2 separate regions of the Homo sapiens genome follow, and region 2 is reported to be linked to region 1. Evidence: microRNA targets listed by miRTarBase, many of them from high-throughput screens and not tested one by one. Region 1 holds a microRNA gene; the other region holds the end of a gene's coding sequence.

What was found. Region 1 holds the annotated microRNA hsa-miR-7158-3p (CUGAACUAGAGAUUGGGCCCA, at 1,821-1,841, opposite strand). A microRNA usually pairs through its seed, bases 2 to 8, with sites in the 3' UTR of a target mRNA and lowers its output. Matches are read on the target gene's strand: a 7mer-m8 pairs with bases 2 to 8, a 7mer-A1 pairs with bases 2 to 7 and ends in A, and an 8mer does both.
Region 2: the mRNA of TOX4 is a reported target of hsa-miR-7158-3p. Seed matches in the 3' UTR shown: 7mer-m8 at 1,261-1,267.

Annotation. Positions count from the first base shown.
Region 1 is chr2:5,973,140-5,976,552 of GRCh38, reverse strand. MIR7158 (microRNA 7158) reads right to left here and starts at 1,891; the gene lies at 1,821-1,891. It overlaps SILC1 (sciatic injury induced lincRNA upregulator of SOX11), which reads right to left. Exons shown (of 2, transcript NR_026832.1): 2 at 1-3,413. RefSeq lists enhancers at 290-943, 1,823-2,324.
Region 2 is chr14:21,496,381-21,499,793 of GRCh38, reverse strand. It overlaps TOX4 (TOX high mobility group box family member 4), which reads right to left. Exons shown (of 9, transcript NM_014828.4): 9 at 624-3,248. The coding sequence ends at 3,188. METTL3 (methyltransferase 3, N6-adenosine-methyltransferase complex catalytic subunit) reads left to right here. Exons shown (of 11, transcript NM_019852.5): 7 at 1-30; 8 at 194-302; 9 at 423-488; 10 at 657-769; 11 at 1,425-1,656. The coding sequence ends at 1,536. Among named protein-coding and RNA genes, the nearest start is that of METTL3, 13 kb to the left of the region's middle. RefSeq lists enhancers at 953-1,002, 1,033-1,122.

The DNA.
Region 1 (3,413 bases):
GCTCATGTAAGTCAGCCAGCTCATAGAGGAAACCCCCTATCTTTCTACTGGCACCATAATAAAATCCACCATGCACACTGGGCTATTTCCACTGCAGTGCATAAGACAAGAGAAATGGGTCACTATTGTGCTCCTGCTGGTTTCCTCTCCACCAATGCAGCTTGTTCCCTCACATAGTAAGGTGATGTCCACAATGCCTGGCTAGAACAGAAAAGATCTGACAACACCGATGTCCACACCTGAAGTGCCTGAAAATAGCACCTTCCTATGAACATTTAAGTTGGCAATCCATCCATTTGGGAGGTACATGTGTACTGTGAACCTACCCAGAACCAGGCACTTTGCTAAGGCATTGAGATTCAAGGTCAAGGGAGGCACAGTCCCCATGGACCTTGCAGCCGGGGACACAGCTAATGGACAGGAGACATTCATAGTCCAACTCACTTGCTTTATTTCAGTGACTTTATTTTCCATTTTGTTATTACCTTCTTTTTCAAGTCTCCTGTTGGAATTTGGATTATGTTACTTTATTTTTTCCTTTAAAATGCTTTTTGAATGATCAAAGGCCCATTTTAATCCCTCTATTGTCTGCAGCTCCTTAGAGGTGAATTCTCCTTTTACAGAGTCTGTTTGCCCTCAAGGTGATGAGTCTCCACAGGTGCTGGGGGCACACCTTCCTTAGGAATCATTCTCCCATGGAGTCTCAGAAATGCCTTGAGCTCTGCAGGCATCTTCACTGGAGCAATGATTTTTATGCTGGGCTTGAGACTTTTGGGTTGCAAGCTGTTCCACATCAGCTTTTACCTTAAATTCTTGCTCAGATTTTCCAAACAGCAAAGACAGTGTGAATGGAGGCCCCTTACACCAGCCACAGTTGGCGTTCTGACTCCTCTGTGTGACTCCTATCCCACACCAGGCCCAGTCCCAGCATTAGCTTTTGTGATGCATTCCTTGGTACAGAAGGCTAAGCATCGCTAATTTCTATTCAGAGACACAGGGACTCTACCCTTGTTCCTGGCTTTATAAAGCTGCTCAGTTCTAATGTGCACTGCACACAACAGCTGCCAGGGCCACAAACACCCCCAAGCAGACGTTAGGCTCTCAACCCCTAAGATACAGTTTTCCTCTCAATAGCTCATAAGACTCTGCCCTCTGACGTGAGAAAATAGAATTCTGTTGTGCTTTTTAAGTATGCCTATGGCATCTTTTAAAATATACCATATATGATCCAGTATTTCTTTGTGTTTGGAGTGTGAATCTGCAGGTGAAAGAGTGTGTTCTACACGTGCCCGATCCATCCTCATTACACAAATTCACCCTCTACTTTAAAACAGGGAATTTGGGCCTTTGACAGGAAAGAAGCCGGACAGTCATGGGGCCAAACTGGAATCAAATGTAAATATTTAATTTCCTCCTGTTAAAAGCAGAGTGGACCCACAGTCCCTCCCAAAGTAAAATGCACAATAATGTGTCAAGAGCCCTGGACTTATTGCTTCTCGGACGTTAGCAAAGATCAAGCGCAGACCACTGGCTTTGGGGTCTGATACCCCAGGAGAGTCCCGGTTTCGTGCTCATGTGTTATGTGACCCTTGACCCCTCGTTCAATTCTCACGTGCTTCACTCTCCTAAGCCATGCAAAAGGGACATAAGGATATCTCCTGAAAGCAGAGTCGGCTGGAAGGCTGGAAGGCTTATGTGAAGCAGTTGCATATCACTTAGCACTTAGAATGGGCAAATAAAAAATGGTTTAGCTTCTCCTTTGTGGGAACAGAGACTGGGATGGTTTGTATCCTGGCTCTCCTGAAACTGCGCTGCCGAGCTGGGCCCAATCTCTAGTTCAGCTCGCTTCAGAAAGCCAAAGGCAGAAGGCTGCAGGACCAGAGATTGAGCCTGGCCACACAGCCCCTTCTTCCTGATGCCACATGGCTGGTGATCCTGGTCACAGCCTGCCTGAGCTGGTGGAACACAGCTTTGTCGGACTGTTGAAGATAACCCTACAGAAAAATCACCTGGTGAAGGGCAAATGCGCATGTTTTGTCATAAGACCAACTGGGTTTCCTAAATCAGCCAAGCCGTTTATCCTGTGGTCTTGGCAACAGGCTGACCTTCCTTTTACAGAGGAGATGGTGATGCCTGGTCCCAGAGGAGCGCTGTGAGCACCCAGGCATGGATTACAGTGCTTAGCACAAAGTAACATTAAATGTGAATCTCTCTTCTAAAACTATGTTACAAAAAGCAGTAATTCATTCCAAGCAAGACTGTCAGTTTAGGTGAATCAAGTAATCATAATTTCTCTAAAACCTTTTTTCTACTGTAAAAGCTTTAATTTTTGTCTTTATTTTTATTGATACATCTTAGATGTGCATATTTTGGGAGTACATATGATAATTCAACACATTCATATAATCAAATCAGCATAATTGGGATATTTGTCACCTTAAATATTGATCTTTTCTTGATGCTATGAGCATTAGGTTAATGGGTACAAATGTACAGTTAGATAAAAAGAATAAGACCTGGTCTTCAATACATCATGGTGGCTATAGTTAACATTAACCATTGTACATTTCAAAATGCTAGAAGAGAATAATTCCAACACGTTTTTTGTTTGCTTACTTTTTTCTGAATTCTAATAGACTGATACATCAGTCCCTGCTGTAGCGAAAATAATGACTTCCTCAAAATGCACTTCAAGAATGTGACCTCAATGGATGTAACAGAAAGAACCTGCTCTTGGTGTTTGGGAAAGAAAAGGTGTTAGGCCCGCCACAATTCCTTCTCCTCCCAGGTGATTCAGAGTCCTGGAGGACAGAATACCTTGGGAACTTGAGTGAACTCCTTTCACCAGCCCAGCCTTGACTCAGATTCCAGCTCATATAGCTCACAAGCTCCACTGCCCAGGCCAAACCCCTCAAATGCTTAGGTTTTGTTTGTTTATTTGAAAGAGTTTTGCTCTTGTTGCCCAGGCTGGAGTGCAATGGCGCAATCTTGGCTCACTGCAACCTCCGCCTCCTGGGTTCAAGCGATTCTCCTGCATTAGCCTCCCGGGTAGCTGAGATTACAAGTACCCACCACCACGCCCGGCTAATTTTTTGTGTGTTTTTAGTAGAGACGGGGTCTCACCATGGTGGCCAGGCTGGTCTCAAACTCCTGACCTCAGGTGATCCGCCTGCCTCGGCCTCCCAAAGTGTTGGGATTACAGGCGTGAGCCACCACGCTCGGTCTAATGGTCAGGTTTTTATTCCTGTATATGTCAAGTAAGGACAATAAGAATTACTTCAAAGTGTTGTTAGGAGCTAATGCATGTAAAGCATTTATAAGAATTTTTGGCACCCAGCAGATGCTCAGAAACTTTTAGCTCATAATATTAGCATTGCTATAAAAATAACATTAATAAAAACCAACAACATTAC
Region 2 (3,413 bases), not on the chromosome of region 1:
GTTGGGGAGAGAATGTCTAAACCTCTGGGGGTAAGTAGTGGTTGTGTTGCTTTCTTTTGAGGGTAATACTGTTACAGTGAGATACATGTTCTCTTCTCCCAGACTATTCTGTGATTCCTTGCTTCTATAAATGGTACTACCCCTAAACTGTAAAAGTTTGGCTAAAATTCTAGTTCTTTTTTATGCCCCACAGGTATGAACGGGTAGATGAAATTATTTGGGTGAAGACAAATCAACTGCAACGCATCATTCGGACAGGCCGTACAGGTCACTGGTTGAACCATGGGAAGGAACACTGCTTGGTGAGCAGCAGTGGGGCCCAATTCAATAGGTGGAGCACAAAGAAGAATCATTTGATTTCTTACTGAGAAAAAGTTCAAAGGTGTGGTTTCATAAGGTAATCTGTTATCTGTGGTGAGCAGGTTGGTGTCAAAGGAAATCCCCAAGGCTTCAACCAGGGTCTGGATTGTGATGTGATCGTAGCTGAGGTATGTGCTTCCCAGGCCTCCAAAGCTTCCACATTTTTGTTGGTATCAGTTATTCATGTTGGGTGTATTCTCATCCCAGATTTTTCTCATTTAGATCATAAACATAATAGAAAGGGCTAGAATTGCAATCTTGTGTAACTTAAAAAGCAGCTAGTTTTTATTTCCTAGGTTCGTTCCACCAGTCATAAACCAGATGAAATCTATGGCATGATTGAAAGACTATCTCCTGGCACTCGCAAGATTGAGTTATTTGGACGACCACACAATGTGCAACCCAACTGGTAAGGTGACCAGAGAACAGGCTAGTCCTCAAGGGGCTATTATTTATGATTAAGGACAGAACTTAGTAGAGCTTCACATTGTTTTACACTAGTCCATAAATGAGCTTCACAGGATTCATAAGCCACTTAAGCTTGTATTTAAACTGTTTTATGAGATTCTACAAATATTCATTAGAAACTCAACAGGTTCTAGGACCCAAAAGCACTGCTCCCTAGGGTTTCTACTCTCTTCACAACCCAAGGATCTTCCTCAGCCATTCTGTGATGTATTGAATCTGCCCCCTGGTGGTTACGAAGTTATCTATTTAATCTGTCAATAATTACATCTTTCACCCCTTAACAGAGCTTAAAACACATGCTGCTAGCATTTTGCTTATCCAAAGAATACTCCCTGGTAGCAACTCTGTGAAGCAGGCCTGGCTAAGCATTAGTTACTAACCCTCAGATAATACAGATCCAGTCTATTTTAACACCAGAATCTATGCCAATTCTGAACTAGTAATTCTACCATATACTATTCTAATGTTAAGCTCTTTTTAGAATTGGCATATTTGATATGATGATAGGCAGTCTTCATTTGGTATGCATTTTTTAACAATATTAAACCCTCTAATTCCAGGATTTCTGGTTTGCCCCTCCTTTTACACTGTTTCAGGATCACCCTTGGAAACCAACTGGATGGGATCCACCTACTAGACCCAGATGTGGTTGCACGGTTCAAGCAAAGGTACCCAGATGGTATCATCTCTAAACCTAAGAATTTATAGAAGCACTTCCTTACAGAGCTAAGAATCCATAGCCATGGCTCTGTAAGCTAAACCTGAAGAGTGATATTTGTACAATAGCTTTCTTCTTTATTTAAATAAACATTTGTATTGTAGTTGGGATTCTGAAGTCCATTCTGGCTCTGCTACTTAACAGTGTATAATCTTGTGCAACTCATCTCTCAGTATTATATGTGAAATGGGAGTATTACCTCATTGGGTTGCTGTGAAGGTTCAAACTAAATGAGTGCATGGGAAACATTAAAATGATCATTATAGGCTAGGCACAGTGGCTCACACCTGTAATCCGAGCACTTTGGGAAGCCGAGGTAGGAGGGTAACTGTAGCCCAGGAGTTCAAGACTAGACTGGGCAACATAGTGAGACCCCATCTCTACTGCTACCCTCCAAAACCATTAAAAAAACAGGAATGCAGGCTGGGTGCGGTGGCTCATGCCTGTAATCCCAGCACTTTGGGAGGTCAAGGCGGGCGGATCATGAGGTCAGGAGTTCGAGACCAGCCTGGCCAACATGGTGAAACCCTGTCTCTACTAAAAATACCACAAATTAGCTGGGCGTAGTGGCGGGCGCCTGTAATCCTAGCTACTCGGGAGGCTGATGCAGGAGAATCGCTTGAACCCGGGAGGCAGAGGTTTCAGTGAGCTGAGGTCGCACCACTGCACTCCAGCCTGGGTGACAGAGCGAGACTCTGTCTCAAAAAAAAAAAAAAAAAAAAAAAACAAAAAACACACAGAAAACAGGAATGCATAGGATAAAACTATGTACGTAGCTGGTTGAGGAGGAGGTTCTCTAGGACAGCATTCCTGTCTACAAACAGTAAAAATTTGAGTTTTATTTAAAGTTATCACCACTTGGACTATCATGCTGTAAACTTCTGCTTATTCTGTTACAACCAGGTGGCTTCTCTAGTCTGTTTTTCTTTAGATTATGTCTAAGAAATAATGATAGACCTATGGTCTTTTAAAGATAGTTCATCAAACACAAGTGAATACAACTTTAGACTTTGGTGGAACCTCTTACTAATGATGTAGAGTTCCGCCTCTTAGATTCATGAACTGTGATAACTCAGATAAGGATGGTAACTGCAGAAATAATATATATAAAGAGAAATCACTCCTGGGTGATGTCATTTTCCATGTAGCCCAGTATGCCCATGTTGAAAAGTTTTGTTTTCAAAGCAGTGTACTGATGTGATAATGGGGAATAACATTTTTTTATGAGGGAACCCTTTAAAATGGATGCACACAGTGGCATTTTCTCCTAGGCTCAAAGCTGAGTACACTCCCGTAATTTTAATAATATTTTAGGCAAGTCCTATGACAATTATACCAACAAGTTTCTTCAACCCCACCACCACCCCACCATCTCTATGCTTTGCTTGCCCAGACTCCCTTCACCCTTTCCTCTGCTATTACCGCTTATGGTTGAAAGTAAAAAGCATCTCCAGATTACAGCAAATTCAGTGGCCCTGCTCCATAGCCTGGCCTCTGCTGAAGGAAGAAAAGGGGTGAAACATGAACAGCCATCATGGGTTGTGATGAGGCACTACCAGAAGCCCAGCTTGTGTTTCAAAAACAGGCTCTTGGACACTTTCCCAGCAGATAACTCTTCACTGGCTTGGAGAACAGGAAGGACTATTTCACAAACACCACTGTGTTTGAATTTCTAGAGGCTACCCAGGCCAAGAATACATCCCTAAGAGAGAAAAAGACATACACAAACAGAATTATACACAAACTGAAATAGAATTACAGCCTAGATACATTTTTTTTTTTGAGACGGACCTCATGGGTTCACGCCATTCTCCTGCCTTAGCCTCCCGAGTAGCTGGGACTACAGGTGCCCACCACCATGCCCGGC